Linked DNA regions of Homo sapiens. The protein of the gene in region 2 purifies or fractionates together with the protein of the main gene of each other region. This does not show direct contact. Each region holds a gene or a part of one and is shown on either strand. Other genes may lie near its edges. The genes, in order: CAPG, RPF1, ZBTB11, PDLIM2, RPF2, ZNF324 and PUM3.

The links.
Region 1: the proteins of RPF1 (region 2) and CAPG purify together in Homo sapiens (co-immunoprecipitation; one large-scale study listed by IntAct). This does not show direct contact.
Region 3: the proteins of RPF1 (region 2) and ZBTB11 purify together in Homo sapiens (affinity purification with mass spectrometry; 2 studies listed by BioGRID and IntAct, with this or other methods). This does not show direct contact.
Region 4: the proteins of RPF1 (region 2) and PDLIM2 purify together in Homo sapiens (co-immunoprecipitation; one large-scale study listed by IntAct). This does not show direct contact.
Region 5: the proteins of RPF1 (region 2) and RPF2 fractionate together in Homo sapiens (co-fractionation; one large-scale study listed by BioGRID). This does not show direct contact.
Region 6: the proteins of RPF1 (region 2) and ZNF324 purify together in Homo sapiens (affinity purification with mass spectrometry; 2 studies listed by BioGRID and IntAct, with this or other methods). This does not show direct contact.
Region 7: the proteins of RPF1 (region 2) and PUM3 fractionate together in Homo sapiens (co-fractionation; one large-scale study listed by BioGRID). This does not show direct contact.

What each region holds. Positions count from the first base shown.
Region 1 is NC_000002.12:85,396,972-85,400,372, reverse strand, and holds part of CAPG (macrophage-capping protein), read left to right. Parts: intron 1-1,087; coding exon 1,088-1,237; intron 1,238-1,590; coding exon 1,591-1,683; intron 1,684-2,220; coding exon 2,221-2,353; intron 2,354-3,401. UniProt on the Homo sapiens protein: Calcium-sensitive protein which reversibly blocks the barbed ends of actin filaments but does not sever preformed actin filaments. May play an important role in macrophage function.
Region 2 is NC_000001.11:84,492,470-84,496,313, reverse strand, and holds part of RPF1 (ribosome production factor 1), read right to left. Parts: intron 942-3,844; coding exon 859-941; intron 433-858; coding exon 251-432; intron 71-250; coding exon 1-70.
Region 3 is NC_000003.12:101,652,844-101,656,687, reverse strand, and holds part of ZBTB11 (zinc finger and BTB domain-containing protein 11), read left to right. Parts: intron 1-439; coding exon 440-584; intron 585-1,866; coding exon 1,867-1,984; intron 1,985-3,749; coding exon 3,750-3,844. UniProt on the Homo sapiens protein: May be involved in transcriptional regulation.
Region 4 is NC_000008.11:22,578,925-22,583,329, reverse strand, and holds the start of PDLIM2 (PDZ and LIM domain protein 2), read right to left. Parts: upstream 2,856-4,405; 5' UTR 2,728-2,855; coding exon of another isoform or gene 2,726-2,727; coding exon 2,633-2,725; intron 1,952-2,632; coding exon 1,800-1,951; intron 1-1,799. UniProt on the Homo sapiens protein: Probable adapter protein located at the actin cytoskeleton that promotes cell attachment. Necessary for the migratory capacity of epithelial cells. Overexpression enhances cell adhesion to collagen and fibronectin and suppresses anchorage independent growth.
Region 5 is NC_000006.12:111,013,010-111,016,853, forward strand, and holds part of RPF2 (ribosome production factor 2 homolog), read left to right. Parts: exon of another isoform or gene 1-579; intron 580-2,744; coding exon 2,745-2,847; intron 2,848-3,844. UniProt on the Homo sapiens protein: Involved in ribosomal large subunit assembly. May regulate the localization of the 5S RNP/5S ribonucleoprotein particle to the nucleolus.
Region 6 is NC_000019.10:58,465,529-58,469,976, forward strand, and holds the start of ZNF324 (zinc finger protein 324A), read left to right. Parts: upstream 1-1,551; 5' UTR 1,552-1,655; exon of another isoform or gene 1,656-2,650; coding exon of another isoform or gene 2,651-2,659; intron 2,660-3,651; coding exon of another isoform or gene 3,652-3,657; coding exon 3,658-3,778; intron 3,779-4,199; coding exon 4,200-4,316; intron 4,317-4,448. UniProt on the Homo sapiens protein: May be involved in transcriptional regulation. May be involved in regulation of cell proliferation.
Region 7 is NC_000009.12:2,806,049-2,809,892, reverse strand, and holds part of PUM3 (pumilio homolog 3), read left to right. Parts: intron 1-1,988; coding exon 1,989-2,079; intron 2,080-3,844. UniProt on the Homo sapiens protein: Inhibits the poly(ADP-ribosyl)ation activity of PARP1 and the degradation of PARP1 by CASP3 following genotoxic stress. Binds to double-stranded RNA or DNA without sequence specificity. Involved in development of the eye and of primordial germ cells.

The DNA.
Region 1 (3,401 bases), on a different chromosome or scaffold from region 2:
ACAAGGAAGGGGACAGGTGAACAGACCTCGCCATTACCAGAAAAGGAGAGGTGACAGGGGCTCTGCCTGGCAGGGCGGTGGGTAGAAGTGTGAGATGCTGCGCTCAAGGAGCCATTCAGCCATTCACCCATCCAGTCCTTCACTCAGTCAGTCAATATTTATTTTGCGCCTAAATCCATGCCGGGCTCTGTTTTAGCAGTGGGCCCACAGTGGTGAGCAAAGCCAAACAAAACCTTCATGTCCTAATGAAGCTCACTTTCTAGTAGGTGGAGATAGGTGGTTAAGAGACGTTTAAACATAGGAGATATGTGATGGGAAGAAAAATAAAGAGGTGCTGGGCGTGGCTGCTCACGCCTGTAATCCCAGCACTTTGGGAGGCCGAGGTGGGCAGATCACCTGAGGTCGGGAGTTCGAGACCAGCCTGACCAACATGGAGAAACCCCATCTCTACTAAAAATATAAAATTAGCCGGGCCTGGTGGCACATGCCTGTAATCCCAGCTACTCGGCAGGCTGATGCAGGAGGATCTCTTGAACCCAGGAGGTGGAGGTTGCGGTGAGCTGAGATTGTACCATTGCACTCCAGCCTGGGCAACAAGAGCGAAACTCCATCTCAAAAAAAAAAAAAAAAAAGAAAAAGAAAGAGGCTTGAGCCCAGCGGTTTGTAACCAGCCTGGGCAACATAGTGGGACCCCATTTCTACAAAAAATTAAGAAATTAGCCAGGCATGGTGGCAAGTGCTTATAGTCTCAGCTGCTTAGAAGCTAAGGTGCAACGATTGCTTGAGCCCATGACGTCAAGGCTGCAGTGAGCCATGATCACGTCTTTGCACTCCAGCCTGGATGACAGAGTGAGACCCTGTCTCGAAAAAAAGAAAGGAAGACAGATGGCAGGTGGGCAGAGAAACAGTTGCAGTGGGTGGTCGTGGGCATTTTCAGAGAGCCCTCTGTGCTGTGCTCTGCCTTCCTGGTTGTCCTGCCTCAGGGACAGTTCAGAGAGGAGAGAGGGAGAGCTGTGCGCCCTTCTCTGAGCTGGGGAGCAGGACACAGGCATCTGGCTCTGACCCGGACTTTCCTGCTTCCTTGCAGAACATCTTCGCCTGGTGTGGTGGAAAGTCCAACATCCTGGAACGCAACAAGGCGAGGGACCTGGCCCTGGCCATCCGGGACAGTGAGCGACAGGGCAAGGCCCAGGTGGAGATTGTCACTGATGGGGAGGAGCCTGCTGAGATGATCCAGGTTGGGGGACATTGGAGTGGGTGGCTGGGAGCCTCTGCTTGAAAGTGGCCAAGAGAGGTGGTGATGAGCTGAGGGCTGAGAGTGGCCGGTGGAGGGTGGCAGGGGCCATCTGGTGTACTGCCTAGGGCTGTGGCCAGCTCACAGGGTGCCCCTCTGGGTAGATGCTCGTCCTCGAGGCTGAGCAGCCTGGCTGGTGGGGTGGGCTGGACTCAGCCCTCACTCACCTCACCTCTGCTGGGTGCCCTAGTGCAGGGCGCAGTTTGCCCCACCAGAAGCAGTGGCCCTGGGCATGATGGGCTGGGAAGTTCCAGGGCAGGGGTCCCTATAAACCTGGCCTGCCCTGGCCCCTGCAGGTCCTGGGCCCCAAGCCTGCTCTGAAGGAGGGCAACCCTGAGGAAGACCTCACAGCTGACAAGGCAAATGCCCAGGCCGCAGCTCTGTATAAGGTGGGCCCCCCAAGCCTGCCCTGGGACCCGGCAGCAGGGAGGGTGGGAGCCTGCACAGCACAGCTGCATGCAAGCAGGGTGGAGGGGAGAAGGCAGGGGGAAGGTGGGGCTGGAACCGAGGTGGGAGGTGGGGAGTTATACAGGGCTGGGAGTGAGACAAGGATGGGGAGTGGGCGGAAGGCAGGCCCTCCTGAGGAGATGAGTGCACCTCACTTCCAGCCTATGCTTGGTGAAGGCTTGAAGCCAATGCTGAGCTTTTCTTTCTTGAATTCTGTGCATTTCTTTGTAATTTGGAATCCACCTAATTTCCAAATGGGTTCGGGGCCCCTGTGCTGCAGGGATTGGGGTGATGAGAGGGAGTGGGGCTGCCTGGAATTTGCTTTTCAGGTCTTCACTCTCTTGTCTGCTCCTGGGACCTGGGCAGTGGGCAGCGAGGCACAGTGGGAGGGACCTAGGGAGGACCAGCCTCCCCCTCCTCAGGCTGAGGTGAGGGCTGGTGTGTGGGGGGTGAGATCAGGCACTGTCCCTCCTCCCCAGGTCTCTGATGCCACTGGACAGATGAACCTGACCAAGGTGGCTGACTCCAGCCCATTTGCCCTTGAACTGCTGATATCTGATGACTGCTTTGTGCTGGACAACGGGCTCTGTGGCAAGATCTATATCTGGAAGGGTACGTGGCTCCTCTGTAACAGCCTGAGATGCCTGTAGCTGCTCTGACCCGGGCAGGCTTCCCTTTGCAGGACTCAGCCTGTCTAGCTGCTTGTAAAAGACAGCCTCAGGAAGCCTGCATGCTTCTGGCTGACCATTTTCTCTCTTTAAAAATTTTTTTTAAAAGATAGAGATGGGTTCTTTCTATGTTGCCCAGGATGGTATCAAACTCTCAGCCTCCAGTGATCTTCACCTTGGCCTCCCAAAGTGCTGGGATTACAGGCGTGAGCCATGGCATAGGCCTTGCTATTTTCTTTCTTTCTTTCTTTCTTTCTTTTTGAGAAGGAATCTTGCTCTGTTACCCAGGCTGGAGTGCAGTGGCACGATCTTGGCTCACTGCAACCTCTGCCTCCTGGGTTCAAGCAATTCTCCTGCCTTAGCCTCCCGAGTAGCTGGGAGTACAGGTGCGTGCCACCACACCTGGCTAATTTTTGTATTTTTAGTAGAGATGGGGTTTCACTACCAGGCTGGTCTCGAACTTCTGACCTCAAGTGATGCACCGGCCTCGGCCTCCCAAAGTGCTGGGATTACAGATGTGAGCCACTGCCTCGCCATTTTCTCTTTGCTGTTCCCACCTCCTAAATTCTAGACAATGGCTCTGAAACTACAGCAAGCCTCAGAATCACCCCACGGCCTGTTTAGATGGCTGGGCTCCACCCCCATAGATTCTGATTCACTAGGTCTGGAGTGGGGCAGAACATGCATCTCTAACAAGGTTATGGGTTATGTCTGTGCTGCTGGTTCCAGGGATCACACTTTGAGAACCACTGCCCTAGCCCAGCTCTAGACCTTTGGGGCTTCTGGGACCCCTGATCCTGGGATTCTGTCTCAAGGTTTGACAGAAATGAATTTTAGACAAATTAAACATCATTTTATGCAGTGAGTGGTGAACCTGTAGAACTTGTTTTTCCAAAAGATTCTATCTTCTGGAAATAGAAACACTGTTGGGCAGAGCCTGTTCTGCTTGGTTTGACTGAAAATGAAACAAACTTGTTCTCAGTCTCTGCCTG
Region 2 (3,844 bases):
CCTTAATTTTAAGGTAAAACGTGGTCCAAGTTCCTGAATTCCCACTTTCTTTTCACTCCTGAATATGTATCTTCAAAGACAAAAAGAGTTAAATTAGTCTGAATGAGCTATTGTTTAACATTATGACAGGGTTCAAAAGATAATTCATTTTATCTTGTATGATACTTGCTACAATATGTTGGAAAATTAGTTCATGTTGAAAATATATTTCATAATTGAAATCAAAGTTCAATGAGTTTACCTTCCTCACCTGTGAAATCTGAAGAATATGTAATCCCGTTGATTGTGGAATGTGGCAACCTGCCTTCCGATAAATTGAGGATTATGAGGAAAGAGAGATGCAAACATACGTCCAATTGAATGACCCAGCCGTGTTGTAAAATTATTCAGAATTATTTCAGGTATGTGTTCTGTGGGGTCCTTGCCTCTTCTCTAGAAAAATAATGAAAAATAAATATCACAATGGGCTAAGCTAATTGGCAATACGTCCCAATGCAATTTCAAGTATCAAAATTTACATGACAAATTTGCAAAATGTATTTTTTAGTGACAAACTACCACAGATGGCTTATCAAACCCATGAAATAAGATGTATCTAAAATTATTTTAATATGCACTGAATGCAACAACAAAAAAATCCTATTAGAAAATCAACGTGCTTCATAGTAATGAAGACTATTGCCTGCCGGCTGTAACTTAACCACAGTCTCCCAAGAGAATTGATAGATTAAAAACTGCTCTAATCAGGAGAACAAATGCCATTATTAAAATAAATTAGAGCTATAAGATACAGCATCTATTGATCAAATAAATATTGTGAAGAGATCAATGCCAATCAAAGAAATGTATAAAACTTACCTTAATTTCTTTACGAAGACGAACACTGCTCATTTTAAAATGAGCAGTTGGGCCATTTGGCAAGTGACTCAAAATAAGTCCATCTGTTCATAAAAGTTAAGAAAAACACATTGAACTCTGTAATCTAAATCTAATTGTTTAAATAACTGGTCCTCTACATCCAAAGGCCCCTAAAATCTGTACCCAAGTGAATAGGCAGATGTACATATTCCTCTGAAGTGACATTTTCCTACCATATCAAAAGCTCAAAATCAGTCAAAATCTTTCAAGAATATAGACTAACCTAGAGTAGTCCTTTTTTTCTCTTTTTACAATATAATAGTTAATCACGCTCAATAGGGTATCTTAAGGTACCCTAAACTAAAGTAGGTGAAAAAAAGCTATTTAATTGACCACTACTCTTAGGAGTAAAATAGGATGTGATTCTATAATCATGTAACACTGCAAATAGAGTATGAGTTTACCTCCACGTTCTAAAGATGTATAACCCCAAAATGTCACTTTTATACATTTGTATGGTCACGATATGCTGTCAACTTTGAATAACATCCCATGAGACCAGACTCCTAAACTTTCCTCTATGAAATTAAGGTTATTAGTATTTTGCAAGAGATCACCCCTTACTTAGGATTACTGTACCCCAAATTATAATCAACAAACCAATTAATAGCCATTCACTGACTGTCATTTCCCATGAACTGAGAATTATGCTAGACATGCTAAACTACAAATGAAATGTGAGATCACCTACCTACAACCAGCAGGACTAGCAGCCCAAGGACTCTAGAAGTCCTGGGTGCTGCAAACTAAGGTTGCTACCTATATAATATTCTTCAAGTTTGTGGCACAATCTGACCTTCACTTGAAACACCTTTACTTTTCATGAGTAATTCTTGGCTATTGCTTAATGGCATTACAAGCAGGCATATTAATGACAATGGACAGGGCTTTCACTTTGTATTATGCTTTTCTAGTTTAGGAGAAATTTTCAAACACATTTCATCTGATTCAACAACTTAAATAGGCCAGAATCAGATGGTTTCAAGTCTATCTGCATTTAATATGTATCTTTCAAAGCAGATGTTGCCATCTTTTTACAATGGCATCAACACTCATTCCTCCAGATTAGAAGCTATGGTATCTTCAGCTTCTCCCTCTCCCACCAAATCTTAACTGCTTTTACCTTCAGAAGTTCTCACTTAGCATCCTCTTTACCCTTACTGTCTTAGTGAGGTCCTCAAGATTTTCCACCTAGATTATTAAGGTAGTATTGTGGTTGGTCTGACCTTTTTCTCACCATCTCAAGTACATCTCCTAATGCAGATTGTAAAATCAAGTCTGGACTTAGGCCTTGGTTCTATAAGTAACCAGCTATGGGACTCAGCTGTTTCATTATATCTGTACCATAGTTTCTCACATGCTAAGTGAAAAACAAACTAGATACCTTCACAGTCTTGACAGCTGTAGCTAATTTCATACTACTCTCATCACAGACTCATCTACAGAAAAAAGACATTAGTATCAGACTCATAATGTGGCCACAAATTACCTTTTCAACCTATTTACCCTATGCCCACATCAAGCCTGTTTCCTAACTGGTAGGTACTCACAGTCTTATGTACTATATATGTGAATCCTAGCATGCATTTTTTGCTTCTGCTATTTTGAATACCTGCAACGTTTTACTCATCTATTATGGTCTACTTCAAATGTCACCTTTTTATGTAGTCAGAATTAAGATCTAAATCTTCTCAGTTCTGCTACCACAGCACTCATCACTTTTTGAGTTAGGAAAACACCTTTCTTCCCAACTAATCTGTTAAAACTTAGGTAGGGATGGGAATTTTTTTCTTTTGTTTTTTTTTTTTGAGACGGTCTCACTCAGCAGCCCAGGCTGAAGTGCAATGGCACGACCATGGGTCACTGCAGCCTCAACCTCTCGGGCTCAAGCAATCCTCCCACCTCAACCTCCCAAGTAAATGGGACTACAGGCATCATGCCCAGCTAATTTTTGTAGAGAAAGGGTTTTGCCATGTTGCCCAGGCTGGTCTCAAGCGATCCACCTGCCTTAGCCTCCCAAAGTGCTGGGACTGCAGGCAGATCTTTTTTTTTTTTTTTTTTTTGATAGTAGTGCCTACCATGCATCAGATTATCAGCAAACGTTTGAATTCTATCATTTTAAAAGATTCACCACAGGCTAAACTTCATGAAATACAGCCAAAAGTATTTATTAAGGGGTCTAGGAGATATAAAAGTCATTTCTTCCAACGCCCAAATCAAGGCTTAAATCCTTTCTAGAACATTCCCACTAAATTGTGGTCTGTGTCAAAAGCCAAGTACAAAACCCAAACTTACCAGTTTCTAAATAACTTCTTTTCCCATGTACCTGCATTGTGCAAGAGGCTTTATTTACATTACTGCTAATCCCTAACACAAATCACATAAAACAGGAGTCATCATGCCTATTTCAGTAATGAGGAAAAGAGGCTGAAGAGGGTCAAGTAAATTAGCCTAAGTAAATCAGACTAAGGCAACTGCAGATCTCAACCACGGTGGGACTGCACCTAGCTTAAGCCCCCTGCTGACAGCTGCTCACATTTGGAAATGTACAGAGGCATTTTGTTTGTCAGTATGACTGAGGTGTTACTGGCATTTAGAATCCAAAGGCCAGGAATGCAAACCATCTTGGAAGCTGCCAAGAGTGTAGCACAAATAATTACCCTACCTCAAATAACAGTAGTTCCCCATTTAGAAATAATGAATAGAGGATGTAGGTCTGTACAGATAAAGTTTACATGCTTCTCACTATACCACGTTTACTAAAATGCCTACCATGTGCCAGACACTATGCTTTATAAACATAATACATTTAATGTGATCTTTGTGGGAACTCTAAAGATAGGTATTATTTCCCACATTTAAAAAACGAGGAAATTGAGTGGCTAAGAAACGTGACTAAAATCACAAAACTAGAAAATAATGGAAT
Region 3 (3,844 bases), on a different chromosome or scaffold from region 2:
TTAACAAAAATTTCTCCCAGTGGATTGTGGAAAAGGAAAAAAAAATAATTAGTTCTTCATCACAGTTTGAAAAGCACTGTTCTAGTTGGTGTAGCAGGAAATGGTATATTGTTCTTGATTAAACTTCCATGTCTCTTAATATAAGGTATACTGTTTACCAGTCTCAAAGATAGCATGAGGTTTGTCTGATTTTTACTATTTTGAGAATCTCTGGTGATCACATGGATTTAAGAAAGATAACAATATTTGTTGAATACTGAATCAGAAGAGGGGTCAACTTTCAAGTTGGTTTCAACTTTCACTTTGTCATTATGTTTTATTGTAAATTAAATAATTTAAATATTTATTTAAAATAATATATTCATTTTCTCTGTCTTCATTGTTCAGAAACAATCTCCCTTTTTGTTTTATTGACTTAATCACCCCTGTTCTATCTTAGGTCTGTGGAAAGACTTTTATCTATAAGCATGGTCTAAAATTACATCAGAGTCTTCATCAATCACAGAAGCAGTTCCAGTGTGAACTGTGTGTTAAGTCATTTGTTACCAAACGGAGTCTTCAAGAACATATGAGTATTCACACAGGTAATGAGAAATTTATATTGACATAGTTACATTTCATAAACTATTAATGATTATGCTTTAATTATACCAGAAATTATATTGATAAACTGATAGTCGTGTGTGCTCAATTTTGTATTGAGACAGTATTTTAAATTAAAAGTGCAGGCTGGGCGCGGTGGCTCACGCCTGTAATCCCCAGCACTTTGGGAGGCCGAGGCAGGCAGATCATGAGGTCAGGAGATTGAGACCATCCTGGCTAACACGGTGAAACCGTTTCTCTACTAAAAAGACAAAACATTAGCCGGGCATGGTGGCAGGCGCCTGTAGTCCTAGCTGCTCGGGAGGCTGAGGCAGGAGAATGGCGTGAACCCGGGAGGCGGAGGTTGCTGTGAGCCAAGATCGCGCCACTGCACTCCAGCCTGGGCGACAGAGCAAGAATCCGTCTCAAAAAAAAAAAAAAGCGTTTTCTCAGATCTGGTTTTACAGCTATGTTTGTGTATGGAATATTCATTGTTTCCCTCAGTGTAGAAAAATGTGTACTAAGTGTTAAAATCATGCATAATTTAAATCCAGTCATAAAGAAATGATCATGCTTTTAAAAAGTTAAATGGTAGGGAGACATAATGTCAACATAGTAGTTGGCTTATATTTTTTTGTCCATACATACTTATTTTTAGATGTTTTAAAGCAAAAATGTGGGAATAGCCAATGAAGGGTAGATACCTGCTGCAACTTGTATTCAACTCTAGTACTATTACAATCCATAGATCATACAACCGTATCACATGACTAGGGTCATACCCTCTGATAGTACTATGGTTGTTGACAGGAAATGGGGATTTTGACATGGGTTATTGTTAATCTTAGATGTCTGCCAAATGTTATAGCTTCCATGTCCCCTTGGTAAAGTAACTTCTGAAATATGACATGAAGAATTCTGTTTATTAAAGGCCAGGCGTGGTGGCTCATGCCTGTAATCCCAGCACTTTGAGAGGCCAAGGCGGGTAGATCACAAGGTCATGACATCGAGACGCTCCTGGCTAACATGGTGAAACCCGTCTCTACTAAAAATACAAAAAATTAGCTGGGTGTGGTGGCACGTGCCTATAGTCCCAGCTACTCGGGAAGCTGAGGCAGGAGAATCACTTGAACCTGGGAGGTGGAGTTTGCGATGAGCCGAGATCACGCCACTGCACTCCATCCAACCTGGGCAACAGAGTGAGATGCCACTCAAAAAAAAAAAATTCTGTTAAAAGAGGACTGATTGCTGGATATGTGACAGGGTTTTAATTTTTTCTAATAGGAGAGTCCAAGTACCTTTGCTCAGTTTGTGGAAAGTCTTTTCATAGGGGCTCTGGACTCAGCAAGCACTTCAAGAAACACCAACCAAAGCCTGAGGTTCGAGGCTATCATTGTACTCAGTAAGTATTCAATATGTGAGGCATTCAGTTAATTTAATTATGTTTTTACTCAGTTTTCAAAAAAATATTTGAAGATAATATTAAACTGTAACTTCAGTTTACTCTTGATTTTAATGTCCTTTTTTTCTTGCTTAAGGGTTACTATTTTTAACATCTTCGAGATGTAAATCATTTACCATACAAATCACTCATTTAAAGTGATTTCAGATTTTCAAATGTACTACCTGGAAGTGGGGACTGTGGGAAAGAAGAGTCTCACTGCCAGCCAGTTTCTTTCCCCCCCTCTTCTTCATTTTCCAGATCCTCCTAAAATAAAATCTCTGTTACAATCGAGGTAAAATTCATATAACGTAAAATTAATCGGGACAGGCACAACAGCTCAAGCCTGTAATCCCAGCAGTTTGGGAGGCCAAGGCGGGCAGATCATCTGAAGTCAGAAGTTCGAGACCAGCCTGGCCAACGTGGCAAAACCCCATCTCTACTAAGAATACCAAAATCAGCCGGTTGTGGTGGTTCACACCTGTAGTCCCAGCTACTTGGGAGGCTGAGGCAGGAGAATCACTTGAACCCTGGAGGTGGGAGGTTGCAGTGAGCCAAGATCACACCACTGCACTCCATCCTGGGTGACAGAGTGAGTCTCCGCCTCAAAAAAAAAAAAAAGTCATTTTAGGGTGGTAGTGTGGGCGCAGTGGCTCATGCCTGTAATTCCAGCACTTTTGGAGACAGGTGGGAGGATCGCTTAAGGCCAGGAGTTCAAAACTAGTCTGGGCAGGCAGCATAGCAAGACCCTGTCTCTTAGGAAACAAAAGCCAGGAAGCTCTCTCTTTTGCTTTTCTTTTAACTTTTAGGTTCAGGGGTACATCAGAAAGCTCTCTTACAGGGATTCGACAATTTTTTTTCTTTGTTAAACATTTGCCTAGTCACTATAAGCTTTTCATTAGTTTTTAGAGTTCCTGGTAAGGTTGATTCTAACAGTTTGCCAGTTTGTCCTCTACTTTCGTGGAGAGATGGGCTTTTGGAGCTTCCTACTTGATGTATTTGTTGATGTTACTCTAATTAGTCTTATTTTGAAACAAAGATAGTTTGTTATCAATACATTTTTAGTTATTAATGAAAGTACACCCAACCCAAACAGGCTTGAATTAAATATAAAGTCTAGGAGTCTGGGTGGTTTAATGTAAACTGGATTCAAATTCATTAGCACTTGTTTTCTCTGAGGCACCATATGGACAAGACAATGGCAGTGGTTTCAGTCTCATATCCTCTCAAATTCCAAATTGTCAAACTTCTTTTCTGGTAGTTCCATCAAAGCCCTGAGAGTTACTCCATTTACATCAAGTTAAGTCAGTCATCCCTGAGTCAATCACTATGGCCAAGGGAATGCTTTGTTGTGATTAATTTAGGCCCAAGTCATTTGCTCTATCCCTAGGGTCAAAGGTAAAGTCTACCCTCAACACATGGACTAAGAATGAGAGGGTTGAAATAGGGATCTCAAAGTGGGGTAATTTAGGAGAGAGAATAGTAAATTTCCTCTGTAATAACCTTTGGGAACTATGCACGATTCTTTCTAAAACATTTCTAGTAGTCTTAAGATGAAAAGAACCTAAAACCCTGTAGCCTTTATGTAAGATTAGAAAATTAGGGAATTCTTTTAAGTTGAGATCATCTTTTGGAGTTCTAAAAAACTAAAAATAGTTACTGAGTTCTTGGAAACTTGTTTTAAAGGAATAAGATTATCCAATTGGGTAACTGAACTTTATTGCAGATGTGAAAAAAGTTTCTTTGAAGCTAGAGATCTTCGCCAGCACATGAACAAACATCTTGGTGTGAAGCCATTCCAGTGCCAATTTTGTGATAAGT
Region 4 (4,405 bases), on a different chromosome or scaffold from region 2:
CGTCACTCCTGATCCCTTTCTCAGGGGTCTCCCCAGTTAAACAAAGGGCGAGACCCGCCTGCCTCCTTCCAGACAAGTAGGCCCAGCTCCCCACCAGCGAGAGGGGCACGCCCTCCCAGCTCCCTGGGTACCCTCTTCCAAAGTGGAACCCAGCTGGAGCCCTGAATGGGAGGTAACTGAAGTCTGGGCTGAGGGACAGCCTGCCTCGTCCCATCTTGCCACACATTCCTGGCCGTGAGGCTGCCTCTAGAGATGTAGGGCAACAGGACCCTCCGCTTCCTGGGAGAGCCATGGGATCAGGGTGAGGAGAGCTCAGTCTCTGGCTCCAGCCTGGAGCCCTGCTTCCTGCCCCAGGGCTTCTGAATACCAGAGAGGTCACCTGGGAGGGTAGGAGGCGGGAGATGGGGGCGGGGGGGGGGGTGGGCATCACGTCAGCAAAAGTAAGGAGACTGGGCCGGGCGCGGTGTAATACCTGTAATCCCAGCACTTTGGGAGGCTGAGGCAAGTGGATCACGAGGTCAGGAGATCGAGACCATCCTGGCCAACGTGGTGAAACCCCATCTCTACTAAAAATACAAAAATTAGCTGGGCGTGGTGGCACGCGCCTGTAGTCCCAGGTACTCAGGAGGCTGAGTCAGGAGACTCTCTTGAACCCGGGAGGCAGAGGTGGCAGTGAGCCGAGATCACGCTACTGCACTCCAGCCTGGCAACAGAGCGAGACTCTGTCTCAAAAAAAAAAAAAAAAAAAAAATTAAGAGACTGGAGTCTGGGCTTGCCTGGTGCAGAACCAGAGGCCTGACTTACAGCCCAGGCCTACCTCCCCCGAGCCCTGGTCCCTCCAGAGAACCCCAGAGGAAGAGACAGTCCGAGGCTCCTGCCCTTCCGCTGCCAGACCCTCAGCCTCCTGTAGCTTTCTGCCCCATTCCCAGATGCCATGAGGTGCTCTCTACCCTCCTTCTTGGGGTCCCGCTCCTGCAAACACCCAGGGACCTGAATGACATGAAGGGAGCCGGCTTCTGCCACACCACAGGGCAGGGCAGTTGGAGAAGGAGGGGCTTGGTAGGGCTGAAGAGAGCAGGACAATGTGGGGGTGGCCAGGATGCAAGAGGTGTCTGACTCAGGTTCTAGGCCCGTGCAGAGGGCTCTCCTGGCTCGGGGATCTCCTGGCATTCCCGATCTGTGACTCACTGCAATGCCCCACCCCAGGGAGCCACCTGTTCCCCCTATAGCTTGGCCTCCAGGCCCCACCCTGGCCCCACCTTGGCTTATAGGCTCAAAACCCTAGGAGTAACCCAGGATCGGGCATCTGCCTTCAGTGATGGGGAGGAACAGACAGCCTCTATGAGGAATGAGCCCCCCAAGTCCTCACTTCCAGCTGGGAACTAAACAAAGGCCATGCCCTGTTGGAAGCAGGAGTCCTGGGGATGCAGCCTCGGGCATACCTTTCCCAGAAGGTTCCCCTCTTCAACCCACTTCATGCCCACGCCCTGTGCCCTGCACACTCTTGGGAACCAGTCAAACCCGGGCTTCAAGGTGGCTGGTGCCAGCTCGCCCTGCCCAGCCTGTGACTGCACGCCCAGCCTGGCGCCCACCTTTACCCAACCAGGCATGGGAACACCCCTCAGCCCACCCTGCTGCAGGAAGCAGAGCCCAGGACCTTCTCACCAAGGTGTGGAGAGGGCCCAAGAAGGCCGCTTTAGGGCTGAGCTCTAGCCCATGGGCAGGAGCAAGGGCTGCTCAATACGTGGGGTGGTGGAGGAGGGGGAATGCCACAGGCTCTGCAGAGCGGGAGGCCCTACCGGTCCAGCTGCAGCCGCAGGGGCGAGGGGCTCTGGCGGATCTTGCTCTGGGCCTCGGCATGCAGCATGCCCTCCGCGCTTTCCCCGTTGATGGCCACGATTATGTCTCCAGGCCGGAGGTCAGCGTCCTTGGCTTTGCCCCGCTCGGCCACCTGTAGGGATGAGGAGCTGGCATGCTCAGACCGTGGCCCAGCTGGAGAAGGGACTTCCCACTCTGCTACCCAAGAAACACAGAGGCTGGCTTGACCCAGGCCGGCCTGCACCCTCCTGCATGTCCCTCTGCCTGCTCATGACACCCAGCTGATCAGCCATCCCCTCCAGGAGCGCAGGTGGCAGCCCCCACCCCACACTGGCATTCTAATGGGCCTCCCAAAGAATGTGCAGTGGCAGAATTTCAGGAACTGTGCTTGGAAATACTTTTGGATAGAGAGCCTTGCCCGTGCAAATCGCACCTTGCAGGTGGCTGCCTGCACAGCCCTCCTGTGAATGTTCCCAGCCTGGGCCCAGGTCAAGAGGAGACTGCCAAGAACTCCGGGGCTCTTGTTCTAGTAATCACCCCAAATGGCTGCCTGCAAGTGTGGGGATAGCAACTGGGGAGGCAAGAGCCGGCCCTGTCCTGGTCCCAGCTCCCTTTCACTCCCAAGGTCTGTTCCTGAAGTGGCCACCACATCCCCGTGGCAAAGGGCCACGGCTCCCTTACAGCCAGCACGCCAGGCAGCAGCAGATCCCTAGCTCCAGAACAGAAAAAGCAAGCCATCTGTGCAGAGTGGGGTGAACAGGGCCGACCTCGCTTCTGGCAGGACCTTCTCATCTCTTTGAGCCACCATCCTTACCTTAGTCACCATGATGGGCGTGTGGAAATCCCTGCCCCCTGTGATACGGAAGCCCCAGGGCGCTGGCCCGGCCACATCCACCGTCAACGCCATACCTGAGGAAGAGAGGACCAGGAGGTGAAGTCCATGCCCCTAGCCGGCTCTGGGGGCACTGTAAGGCAGCAGGAGAGGAGCCAAAGGGAGAAGGAGAGGGCACCACAGCTCCCGGAGCAGCTACTCAGGGGCTTTGGGGTGGGTAGAGGAAGTGGCTAACTCCCTCCCTCAGCCCGGTTTCACTTCCCCCCACCCTGGGAAGCCATGCTTCTGGGTTCTCCCTTCCTTAGTCTTCAGCCCAGGGAGCGACTCCCAGGAGGGGGCTGCCCAGGCTGCCAGGCAGGGGGCTTGCTGGAGCATGGGGGGCAGGGGCTGGCAAGTGGAGGGGATGCCAGCACCCCCTCAGTCTCCCCTCCTCCACCATCAGGGCTCAGTCCCACTAGCGCTTGCTTCCTGTCCCCAAAACCCACAGCACACGGTACTTCCTCTCCACTCTGGGGGAGGGCTGGTGAGTGGCCTAGGGAGAGCAGGGCTCAGGAAGCAGGAGTGACGGGTCAAGGAACAGGCTGGCACCAGTACAGACTGTGTAAGTCACTGGCCAGGTGAAGGACTGGTGGGGTGAGGCCGAGTCTTCACATGGGCCTCCTAGCTGCCCACCTCGTTCTTGGCAAAGTGGATCACACGGGCAAGACCGGGCTCCCCACCTCCCCCAGGGGCCGGCTGCCAGGGCAAGGAGGCCAGGGTTCATCTGTCAAGCTGGACACACCCACCCCCAGATTCCTGATGCTGCCCGACAGACAGCCGGGGTGACAGGCCTCCCATCCACAGCCCCTCCGCTGGGCAAGGAAGTGCCCTTGCAGACAGACCCCTGTGGGATTTCCTGAGCCTCTAGCTCTGGAGCCAGGAGCCAATCCAGGCAGGAAGCCGCGGTGCCAGGCTGGGCACCACCCTGCCCAGCACCCATCCTGGGGCTGCCCTGGGGACGCAAGTGCTGCGAGAATCTATCAAGAGCACCAGCGGTCTGTCCGCTCCATCCCCGGCTGCCTTCCCCTTGGGCCCAGGCCTAGCCTCTGTTCCCAGCACCGCCCCCACCCCAGTCCCCGAGGCCGGCTCGCGGCCGCCCCGAGATTCCCAGACCTTTGAGCCGGTCAGTGGACTCCGCGCTGCGGGCGCCGCGGGGAGGTGCCCAGCCCGATGGCCCGGCTCTACCAGTTCTGGAGCCTCCTTCGCTCCGAGGGCAAAGTACCCTGCGGGCTGGGGGCTGGAGGAGGAGCGCTCCGGCCGGGGAGAGCGCAGCTCGCGGGGGCGCCCCCGCTGATGCGAGGCTCCAGGGAGCTGGGCCGCGGACGAGGCCAGGGTTCCGCGCCGACAGGGGCGCGGAGAGGAGCCCGGCGCCGGGGAGGGCGGGCCGCGCGGAGAGGCGCAGGTGGGCGCGCTCACCTGGCTGCCGCTCACCTGTCCGGCTGGGCGCCCAGGCCCGGGAGGGAGGGAAGGCGGGGAGACGCCACCGCTCCCGCTGCCGTCTACCCGACTCTGGGGAGAGCCCGCCCGGGGCTCCCGGACCTGCCTCCGCCCATGTGATCCCGGGGCCGCCCCTGCCGCCGCCCCTAGCCCGAGAAGCCGCCGCCTCCGCGCGGCGAGCCCAGGCGCTGCCACCTGGCCCGAGCCCGCCGGGGGGATGAGGCAGGCTGTCCCCAGGGCCCCCTGCAGGCTGCGACCGTCCAGCCGGTGGTGCCCGCA
Region 5 (3,844 bases), on a different chromosome or scaffold from region 2:
AAGTTCATAAAGTTATTTATCATACTTCTTGGTCAAAATCCTAACAGTGTATATACCACTTGCATGACGTCTTTCCCAACTAGAAATGATCTTTCTCTCCTCAGAACTTCCAGAATGGTTTATACTGTTCTCCTTTTAATGTGCTACTTTAAATTGCAGTTGTTTGTATGTATTCATATCTACCTAGAATGCAGGGCCCCTGATAGAAAAATGCTATATGTCATTTATCACTTTGCATAATAGGTGCTCTGGTACAATTTATTAAGTGAATGGATTCTTGCCAATGGTATTCATGTGTAAACAATACTCTGTTGTGTTCTAGCCAGAAAATATCATGCTGTTAGACATATTTGCTTTCCGGTTACTAAGTACTACCATTTATGCCCTCCCGTTTTCATTCATTACTTGTTTGTGTTACCTTGATGATTTGCAAACTTTAGTGAAATTTCAGTTTGGCAGTTAAGAGAAAATGTTGTAATAAAAGGATGGCTGGTTAGAACTATTGGATACAGACTGAAAATCCTTTTATATTCATAGTCTTAGAAATTTTGACTTAATAAAGAGTACTTTTCCATGTGCTTATTGTGTTCCTAAAGTTTTCTCCCAAAGCACAGATGTCCTGAAAATTTTGCATTATGAAAGTTGTTTCAGAGCAGACTGGAATGTACATATTTCGTTTCCCAGAAGTACTCTGACTTCAGTAATGCCACACCAATGAGTGAGCTTTATTAACTTGGCCACTGAAGGAGAGTCAGGCTTTGGCAAAATCATGGGAAAGCTCTTTATTATGATATTTAGATTAAAATATCTTGAAAAGTACAAACTTGTTTTATAAAAATGTCCCAGGCCAGGCGTGGTGGCTCAAACCTGTAATCCCAGCACTTTGAGAGACCAAGGCAGGAGGAGTGCTTGAGTCTAGGAGTTCGAAACCAGCCTGGGCAACATAGTGAGACCCCATCCGTACATAATATATGTATAAATATATGTAGTATATGTACTTTTTTTAAATTAAAAATGTTCATTAGTTTTTTTTTTTTCTTGTTTGGGGGAGTAGAGGAGGGTGGTGTATAAATGTGCCTGCCCACTTGTGTTTGTTTTATACAAGTTAATGCTGTGTTTTTTGTTTTTTGGGTTTTTTTTTTTTTGAGACTGAGTCTCACACTGTCGCCCAGGCTGGAGTACAGTGGCGCAATCTCGGCTCACTGCAATCTCCGCCTCCCAGGTTCAAGTGATTCTCCTGCCTCAGCCTCCCAAGTAGCTAGGGAGGCACTTGCCACCACACCTGGCTAATTTTTTGTGGTTTTAGTAGAGATAGGGTTTCACTGTGTTAGCCCCTATGGTCTTGATCTCCTGACCTCATGATCTGCTCGCCTCGGCCTCCCAAAGTGCTGGGATTACAGGCATGAGCCACTGCACCTGGCCTGTGATTTTCTTTTGGTTAAGCACAAGAAAGGAAAAGCAGACAACAAAAGATGCGTTCATCTGTGCACATGGAGATAATCTGCATCTTATGGGCTAATGGGAAGCAGGAAGGAAAATGCTAGGTGGCTACAGAATGGGACTAGAACAGAATTTCCCACTTACTACATCACCTGCCTTGGGCAGCTCTTCCTAAGCAAACTTGGATAAACTTTTATATAGACCTTTTATCTTAGCCAAATGTTATTCATGAATTTCCATTTAGCCTCCTTGAGGTTCGATTTTCTCAGCTGTAAAATTAAGATATCACACTTGTTTTCCAAACTTCTTTCATAGCCAAGTCTGTGTAGTATCCTTAGCGTGCAGTTCACTGGAGATTTTCTTTTAATTGACTCCTCTTTTTAAGTTATTGTTTGAGACAGGGTTTTGCTCTGTCGTTCTCACTGAGTCCAGTGGTGGGATCAGCAATCCTCCCACCTTAGCCTCTCCAGTAGCTGGGACTACAACCTGGCTAATTTTTTATACTTTTAGTGGAGATGAGGTTTCACCATGTTGCCCAGCCTGGCCTCAAACTCCTGAGCTTAAGCAATTCGCCCGCCTCAGTCTCCCAAAGTGCTGGGATGACAGGCATGAGCCACTGTGCATGGCTGACTACTCTTTTTAAAAGGAAATTTTATGTCCCTATTGTAAATGGAGAATGGTACAGGATAAAATAAATACGTAGTAAATTATATCTGGCTTTGTATCATTAAAATGCTCTCATGTGCCACCGGTGGTATGATTACCACTTTGTGAGAAAAAAGACTATCACTGATATGCAAGGTTCTTTTCTGGCATTAACAGTTTATAAAGTTTCTTATCCTTTGTTCATATAATCAAGATTTCTTATTAGAGTTTTTTTCTTGTTGGCCTCCCTCATAGAAAAAAAAATTAAGGCTAATTTGATTTTAATAGTCAATTTGAACAGCCATTTTTATAGAAATTTGCTATCTTCATCTACCAGTAGATTAAAATTTTATGCTTTGATTTACATTTTTTAAAAGTTAGTATTTTTAATGGATATGATTTTTTGATGCTGAGCTGACTCAGAGGAAGAACTTCAAAACAGAAACATTAAATGTCTCAGTGAACTGAACACCAAAATACCAAAATAAAGTCATGAGATTAAATGCTTAAGGGGTGGGACCTTCAGACATTTTTCAGGAATCATTTTTTGTGCTTTTTTAGATAAGTATTGGAGCAAAACTGTTTAGAGTGCAGTTCTTTGTAACTGAATTTTGCAAGTATTTGTTTTGTTTTGTTAATAATTTAATATGTGCTTTTAGATTTCTTCAGAGGCCCCACAGTATCAAATATCCGCCTGGCTGGATTAGAGTATGTTCTGCACTTCACTGCACTGAATGGGAAGATTTACTTTCGAAGCTATAAGTAAGTGCATTTCTTCACATATTTTCTTAATCCTCAGGGTTAGTGTTTAAAACTGTGTGACTGTTTTTTAGAGCCCAAACTTAGAATTGGTATCTGGCCAAAAGGTTTCTTGGAGAGTTGGCAGGATAGCAGTGACAGCAGCTCTGTGCTGATCCTCAGTCCTTTGCCTCTGAAACCCTACTTTTCCAGTGCCCCAGAGCATCTGATGCTGCACTGTCGCTGAGCCAGGTGCACCAACCCTTCCTAGCTTTATGCAGCATCTCTTTATTGTTCTTGGTTGGATTTACAGCACTAAGCCACAAATCCTTGGCTAGGCAAAGCAAATCTCAAAACCCTAAGTCTTAACAATTGAGTCTAAAAGGAATAAGAAGATTCAGTGGCTAGATTCATTTCACTCTGTCTCTCTAGCCTAGGCCTTCTACCCCTACCACAATATAAATATAAATCTTAAGCAGGCCGAGCATGGTGGCTCACACCTGTAATCTCAGCACTTTGGGAGGCTGAGGCAGGCAGATCACTTGAGGCCAGGAGTTCAAAACCAGCCTGGCCAACATGACGAAACCCCATCTCTACTAAAAAAAACCAGAAAAATTAGCCCAGCGTGGTGGCACATGCCTGTAGTTCCAGCTGCTCAGAAGGCTGAGGCACAAAAATCGCTTGAACCTGGGAGGTGGAAGTTGCAGTGAGCCATGATTGTGCCACTGCACTCCAGCCTGGGCAACAGAGTGAGGGCGCTGAAAAAACAAAAAACAAAAAACTCTTAAGCAGATTCTATGTTTATTAAAGAGTTAATGACATGCTGTAATTGTGGTTCTTTTTTTTTTTTCTTTCTTTTTTTTTTTTTTAATTGATCATTCTTGGGTGTTTCTCGCAGAGGGGGATTTGGCAGGGTCATAGGGCAATAGTGGAGGGAAGGTCAGCAGATAAACAAGTGAACAAAGGTCTCTGGTTTTCCTAGGCAGAGGACCCTGCGGCCTTCCGCAGTGTTTGTGTCCCT
Region 6 (4,448 bases), on a different chromosome or scaffold from region 2:
TGCACACTCCAACTCCTGAACTCAATCCTCCCACCTCAGCCTCCCATGTAGCTGGTATTACAGGCATGCAAGACCATGCTCAGCTAATTTTTATATTTTTTTATAAAGATGGGGTCACATTTTGTTGCTCAGGCTGGTCTCAAACTCCTAGGCTCCAGTGATCGCTCACCTTGGCCACCCAAAGTGCTCAGATTCCAGGTGTGAGCCACTGCGCCCAGTCCTGAAATGTTCTTAAATTCTTTCAAAGTAGCAAAATTTATATTAAAACATTCCAAACATGATGAGCTCCCTTGCTCTACAAGGATTTACAAGTAGAATCAATTAGGTGGACAGTTATAGCTGACAGTTGACAGAGAGATAGTTATAGATGGAGGTAGGTATAGAGGGAGGGAGGCAAAAAGAGTTAAGGAACTGGACAGCTGAGAACTGTCTACAGGTTCCAAAAACAAGACAAAGAACCTTTTATTATCTGCCAAACAAGACAGTCTACATTGAGACTGCTCTGCCTTTCGTTTTTATGTGTCAAAGACACTTAAATTGGCCTGTAATCCCAGCACTTTGGGAGAACGAGGTGGGCGGATCACCTGAGGTCAGGAGTTCAAGACCAGCCTGGCCAACATGGTGAAACTCCATCTCTACTAAAAAATACAAAAATTAGCCAGGCATGGTGGCGCACACCTGTGGTCCCAGCTACTACGGAGGCTGAGGCGGGGGGATCACTTGAACCTGAAGGCAGAGGTTGCAGTGAGCCGAGATTGTGCCACTGCACTCCAGCACGGGCAACAGAACAAAGACCCTGTTAAAAAAAAAAAAAAAAAACTTAAATGAGTCCCAAGAAAAAAGGAAAAAAGAATGAATATTGTGATGTGTGGGGCAAGACAAGATCTAGATGGTCTAAGGACAAGCAAATCTGGGGAATTAACTTCTGCCCATCCAAATTACAAGGAAAACAGATGCTTTGGGCAAGTGTCGAGGAACAGTCTCATACTTAAGACAAATGTAGGCTTACGGGCTGAGAATTCTTGGTGTAAAGGTTGAAAACGGACCTTAAACCTTTACGGGACATTGACACAGAGAGGTCAAACCCGCGCCCAGGACGCACAGTCAGTGAGAGGCAGAGCTGGGAAGGGAACCCGGAGCTCCAGGCATCGGCTCCTCCACCTCCACCTGCGCTACCCGGTGCATTTTCTCCTCCGTGCTCACTGCTGGTGTTGCCTCTTGGAACCTCGGCAGTTTCTGCTTTCGCACCTGCAGGGTTTAGTCTCCGGGACTGCTTGGGAGGACACCTGGAATGCCGAAGGCAGGACTACACACCGGGCGAATCCACCAGCGCCACCAAGCCCTTGAAAACCCGAGGCCGCCGCGCGACTCCATTTCCCAGCGCCCCGCGCGGCAGGGGCTTGGACGTTGCCAAGGAGACCGGTAGTGGCCCCGCCTCCACGCAGGGAAACAGGCGGGAACCACGTGACCCGGAAGGCTGTACGCAAGCGTCCGCGGCGCGCACTGGGCCAATGAGAACCGAAGGGCTGGACTTCCGGCGGTGGGACTGTCACTTCGCCGCCCGCGTCAGGCCACACCGGTGGTCTGGGCTGGGGACCGCGGGTCGGGTCCGGTTTCCAGGGGGTTCCTGGTGCTCGAGGCTGGCGGCGAGGAAGGTACTGGCTGAGGGCCCGCGTCGGGCCCGCCCTGCGCACGCGTCGTGATCAAGGGCGCCGGCCGCCGGCCGCGCCCCCAAGCCTCTGTTTCTCAGAGTGCGTCGTGGGCGTCCAGGGGACTGTCGGGCCGCGGCGGGAGCCATGCGCTCTCCCACCGTGCGGCAGCCCAGGAGGCTGCGCGCTGGGCGTTCCACGTCCATGATGGCCGGGGAGACTGAGGCGCGGGGCGGCCCCGGGACGCTGCTGGCGGGGAAAGGCTGGGTGGTCCACGCCTTTCTTCCCTCCCAGCTGCGGGTTCCGCTGGCGGCGGTGGCGCTGACAAGCCCGCGTCGGGGAAGCAGGGGAGTCCCTGCTCACACAGACCGCGCCCTCACGGAGGGAGGCCGCTTCCTAGACCTCGCCTAGTCGTCTTTCCTCTCCCTGCCCTGGGGGGGTTGCGGGGGTCAGTGCAAACTCCTGCGTCCAGGGCACTGGTGAGCTCCCGAGTTCGGGCAGCCAGGGGGCTGAGGTCCCGAAGGAGGCTCCGAGGGGAGAGTCCTGCGTGTGCAAAACCTGGGAGGGGAGCCGAAGCCCAGGTGCTTCTGGGACTGAGCTCTCTCGATGTGGAGCTGGAGTAGAGGGGATGTGTGCGGCTGCAGTATCAGGCGAGGGAGTGGGCTTTATCTCGAGGGCGTCGGGAGACATAGAAGTTTTGAACAGAATCAGGACATCCTCTGAGGACTTTAAAACGGTTCCACCGTTTGTTGCGTGGAGAACAGACATGCAGGGGTGTCGGCATGAAGGGAAGAACCGACTGCCACAGTCTGGGCAGCAGTGGAGGTGGGCGACCAGGTGAATTCTGGTGGATCTGCGGATGCATCAGGTGTGGGCTGTTTGAAGAACTAAGTACCCCATGTTGTTCAGCCTGAGCGCCTGGAAGAAGAGAGCTGCTGTAGATAGAAAGGAGAATTGAAAGGAAAGCAGGTTTCCTTCAGGGGAAAGATCAAGAGTCTGGGATGTCCCAGGTTGGTCATGTCACTGGACCTGACGTTGTTGGCGTCCTGGGCTGTGGACAGGGCCTATGAATTGGACTGAGGAATGGGCAGGGACTCAGCCAGGTGTGGGCAGTTATGGCTTGAGGGTAAAGAAGACCAGCTGGGATGCCTGGGGCTATTGGGAAGAGCCTAGCACCTAACTGAGGAGGGGAGGGTGGCAACAGAGAGGGGAAGAAAGGGGACACCGGGTGAAAGGAGGAAGGGATTGAGTTCCTCTGTGTTCACAGGTTGTTGAGGCTGCTCCCCTGTGGCGACTGGTGAGAATCATCCAGTCCCTCAGGCTGGATGAGCAGCCTGGAAATGTCAGGCAAGCAGGCTCAGCAGGGGAGGGTCCCAGTGATGGGTATGCCTGGGAAGCCCCTGCTGGGACTCACAGTTTCTTGCTACAAGAGCAGGAAGGGTGCATCTGGGGAGGGTCATGAGTGGTCATGCTGAGTCACGAGTGGACACCTGGGGCTGCTCTTGGTGTGGCAGCTGAGGGCCCAGCCAGGACTTGTTCTAGCTTGCTTGTGTATGGCGTTGCCAGTGGGGAGGCCAAGAAGGCATCTGGGGTCTGGTCAGGGAGGGCAGAGGGGAGGGGTCCCAGACATGTGAGGGAAGTGCCATCTGAAGATGGTGGGGGCAGAACCCAGGGAAGGAGGGTGAGTGTCTGAGGGACATCATGGAAGGTGGCTGTTGGGATGGGGAGCTTGGTCCTGGCTCACAGCCATACCTTAAACTAAGCTTGTCCAACCCACTGCCCAGGATGGCTTTGAATGCAGCCCAAAACAAGTTCGTGAACTTTCTTAAAACATGAGATGTTTATGCAATTTTTATTTTTTTTAGCTCATCAGCTGTTATTAGTGTTAATGTATTTTATGTGTTGCCCAAGACAATTCTTCTTCCAATGTGGCCCAGGGAAGCCAAAAGATTGGATAACCCAGCCTTAGACCATGGCTGTCTCTTCCTCCCTGCTCTTTTAGGACCAGATGGCCTTTGAGGATGTGGCTGTGTACTTCTCCCAGGAGGAGTGGGGGCTCCTGGACACAGCCCAGAGGGCCCTGTACCGCCGCGTGATGCTAGACAACTTCGCACTTGTGGCCTCGCTGGGTAAGGTCCTAGATACTCCATGAAATGGGCAACTGATAACAAGCTGACTGGCCAGGGCTGCCCCCTCACCTCCCTGGTGGCTGACGAGCAGGCCTATACCTTGCAGCCAGGAGCCATGTGGAATAGGGGTCTGGTCCTATAGACATGCAGTCTGGTTGGCTCAACCACTCCCTGTGGCGCTGTCCGGCTGTGGCCTCTCCGAGCCTTGGCTCAGTCCCCTTCCTTTGGTGCCCTGGGCACAGTTGCTGCCCTGGGGATGAATGAGCTATTCCTGTGAGCCCCTTGCCCTGTGCCATCTTTAGATTCTGCAGTTGCACAGATGACATTTTCTGTTTCCGTGAAGCCCTGACTCCTGCCCTCTGTTTGGAGGTGGGTTATCTTGAGCTGGGGCTGGACTCTAACCTGCACCTCCTCCTCACAGGACTCTCCACCTCTCGACCTCGTGTGGTCATCCAACTGGAGCGTGGCGAGGAGCCCTGGGTTCCCAGTGGAACGGACACAACCCTGTCCAGGACCACCTACAGGAGGCGCAACCCTGGTGAGAGGGAGCTCAGGGTGGGGTGAATTCAGGACCAACCTGTGGTCATGCCTCTGTCCCTGGTTCCCAGACTCCCCAGAAGCACCCTCCTCCCCTCCCTCCCACCCGATTCCCTTCCCTTCCATCATCAGC
Region 7 (3,844 bases), on a different chromosome or scaffold from region 2:
TTTTGGACTAGTGCCTGTTTATTTGGCATTGAAATACATGTGACCAAAGAGTAAGCCAGTCTTTGGCGCTTTCTGGTTTTTTGTAAGCCTTACAGCTGCTCTGTAGAAACTCAGCTCTCTAGAGAAGGACAGCATTAGCATTTGCATGCCATTCCCCTCTCAGTCCTATCTCCAACCAGACCTTCACTTACAAAATCCAAATTCCATCTGGTATTTAAACCACTGGAGAGATTTTTTTCCCCTACTGAGTTAAAACAGTTTGGGCTTTTCATTACAATGTCTGGAAAAAAGTGACAGATCATGAATTCATGTCTTGCGGCAAGTGGCAGCTCTGATGGCTAGTGTGGCAATCAGTATAGCAGTAGAGCTGTCACTTCTCACCTTACCTTTAAGAATGGGGACCTGGGGCTATTTTTCACTAAATTTTTTTGTAAAAGAGAAGCCTTGTGATAAATATTAAAGAAAAAAATAACATATGGAATAATCTTTTTCATTATTAAAAAGTTGATGTATAGTTGAGTTTATGCCAGAAAAGTAGTCTGGCTTAATGTCCAGTGGTTTTTCTCCCTCTTAATTAAAATGTGCTGAGAACCCTAAAATCTGCCAGTTTGGGTCTGATGTGTTTGTCTTGTCGTATTCAGCACCAAATGAGTTTGTCCTCCTGCACGTCTAGCTGTTTTGATTCTCTTTTACTGGATAGTAGCCACCTTAAAACTTAGTAGTTTTCAAAACAATGACTTGATCAGGGTCTGGTGGAGCCTGCCCCTCTATGCTCAGAGTCAGAGTCATCTAGGGCTGCTCGGTTTGTGGTTGGAGTGTCCACTTTTCGCTTAGCTCACTCACATGGCTGGCAAGTGAGTACTGACTGTTGGCTGGGGACCAACAGCCTCAGTTTCCCTTTCTAGGCTGCTTGGGCTCCTTCACGAGATGGTGGTTGCTTTTTTAAGAGTGAGCATCCCAAGAGGACAAAGTAAATGCGTGGCACTTCCATGATTTATCCTTAGCAGTCATTTAATGCCACTTTCATCATACTGTCTTGGTCAAGTCAATCACAGAGGCCCACTGTGATTCAAAAGAAGACATGGATTCCCCCTATAGATGGGGGAGTGGCTGCATTCTAGAAGAGCACACAGGACAGGAGATATTATTGTGGTCAGCTTTGGAAAACAATTTGCCTCACTAGCTGAACTCTGTCCCTCTTTAGCAGGTACCATGAAAGGCTGAATAGCCATAGGCCTCTTGGCTTTTAAAGAGTCCTTACATTCAGGTATCTTTGAATGAATTATATAGTACATGCTACCTGACTATGATGTTTGCCTTCAAGATAGGTTGTCCCTACCTCCATCTGCACTAAATCTTAGCTATCAGAATTTCTCCTTTGTCCAAGCATTAATTGCAAAGTGAAAAAGATAATACCACGACCTTGGGAATCAAATACTAGAATAACGGGAGAAAAATGGTATTTTTGATTTGTGAGTATGTAAGCGTTGTAAAGAGAAATGCCAAGTTTAAGCTAGAACAGTCATTTATCAACCACTGTTGAACACGTGAACACTGTGTTATGTTCATGGCACCTTGTGAGTGAGCATTTCTCCATGAGGAAGAACTTGATTTCAACCAAGCATGAGGTGCTACTGTGAAACATTTATTTCCTGAATAGCTTTCAGGTCAAAGTTAAATCATTAAATAATACAAAGAAGTGCAGACATAACCAAGTGAGTGTTTTATTAGAATTCATAGTTTATCTTGAGTAATTACTGCTAAACATAGCTTAGGTTTTGGATCAGAGTTAAAAGAAATGGCTCTTTTAGAAATGCATTAGATAAACCTGCACTGGAATTTTTTGTGTTAAAAGGGAGATTGGGTGAAAGCTACTTTTGTTAGCTTTTTTGTTTAAAAATATTTGCAGATTTAAGGGCAGTAGAGAAGGGGGTAGGGAGTATATATCTTATTATGTGATGTTCACTAAGCTTCAGTATATTTTACAGGTTGTTTTGCAAAAACACTTGTAGAGCATGTTGGTATGAAGAACCTGAAGTCCTGGGCTAGTGTAAATCGAGGTGCCATTATTCTTTCTAGGTATGTATAACATGTGCCCTTCTCTGAGCAGGGCCTGGTCATGCAAAAGACACACTTCCTTCACGTTGATTTCTCAGTTCTAATATTTGTTCTCAGTAGTCTAATATTACTCCCAGTCACTCATGGTCTAGACAAACATACCAAATATTAGAAAGCAAATGTAACTCTTTCAGTCAGTCCTTAGGAATCTTTTTTTTTTTTTTTTTTTTTTTTGAGATGGAGTCTCACTGTCACCCAGGCTGGAGTGCAGTGTCACGATCTCAGCTCACTGCAGCCTCAACCTCCTGGGCTCAAGTTTTCCTCCCATCTCAGCCTCCTGTGTAGCTGAGACTACAGACGCATGCCACCACACCCAACTAATTTTTATTTTTTTATTTTTTGTAGAGATGGGGGTCTCCCTGTGTTGGCCAGGCTGATCTCAGACTCTTAGGCTCAAGTAGTCCTCCCATCTTGACCTCCGAAAGTGCTGGGATTACAGGCATAGCCATTGTGCTTGGCCCTTAGGATTTTTAAACTACCATCTTTTTGACAAATTATAACATTCACAAGGTATCAGGTGGCTTCACCACATTTATGGTTTTGACCAAAACATAATTTTTTTTTTTTGAGATGGAGTCTCACACTGTCGCCCAGGCTGGAGTGCAGTGGTGCGATCTCAGCTCACTGCAAGCTCTGCCTCCTGGGTTCATGCCATTCTCCTGCCTCAGCCTCCTGAGTAGCTGGAACGGCAGGTGCCCGCCACCACGCCCAGCTAATTTTTTTTATTTTTAGTAGAGACCTGGTTTCACCGTGTTAGCCAGGATGGTCTCGATCTCCTGACCTCGTGATCTGCCCACCTCGGGCTCCCAAAGTGCTGGGATTACAGGCATGAGCCACTGTGCCCAGCCTGTATTTTTTTTAATGAATAACTTACATCCCTGTGAAAACTGTGACAATGTTGACTTTTAAATCATGCCTAATTCTACATGTAATTTCCTTCATTGTTTTAAAAGATTGTAAAAGGATTGGAAGAGCATTTGCTACTGAAGTGTGTGTGCTATTTGTTGATATCTGACTTAAAATGAGAAAAAAACAGTGATGAGCTATGGCCTCTTTTGTATTATTCTCTGAACTTAGTTGAGTTTATAATCAATCCACAAATCATTGAAATTTTCCATACATTCTCTGTGCAGATGAAAACCTTCTGTTAAGAGCATTCATTTAAAAAAAGATTTGTATGTTGCTTTGAAGCAATTACTGTTGATTTTTCCCCTGCTGTGTTATTAAGGTTTGGGAAAACAGATACCAACCCTAGTTTGAATTTCTCAAGATACTTTACTTGCAACATGCTATGCAACTTAATCTATGTTGTTTGTAAATGTTATTTTAAGTGTTTCTTCAACATATACGTGATCTGGTACACATAATACTCACACAGGAGCATTCATAGCTTCAGGTATGTCAGTGTCTCCAAATATATAAGTGTTACAGATCATTTTGTTCATTTCTGCTTAAAATTAGTTAATTTTCCAGTTGATGTTAAACAGTCAGAATTCGTTAGCTGATACATGAACTTTTTCATTACAAATTTTTTTACCAGGCATTTGGAGTGTTAACACCTACTGACACATTCTTTCATTACACTCAATTAACTGGAAATTTCAGCAATGCCATGAAATTAATTTATAAAGGTTGTTCATCAATCAGAACTCCCATTAGGTGGATTTCAAACATAGGAAGGATACTATAGGTTTATTATGGAGCACTACTCAGAATTGGAACAGGA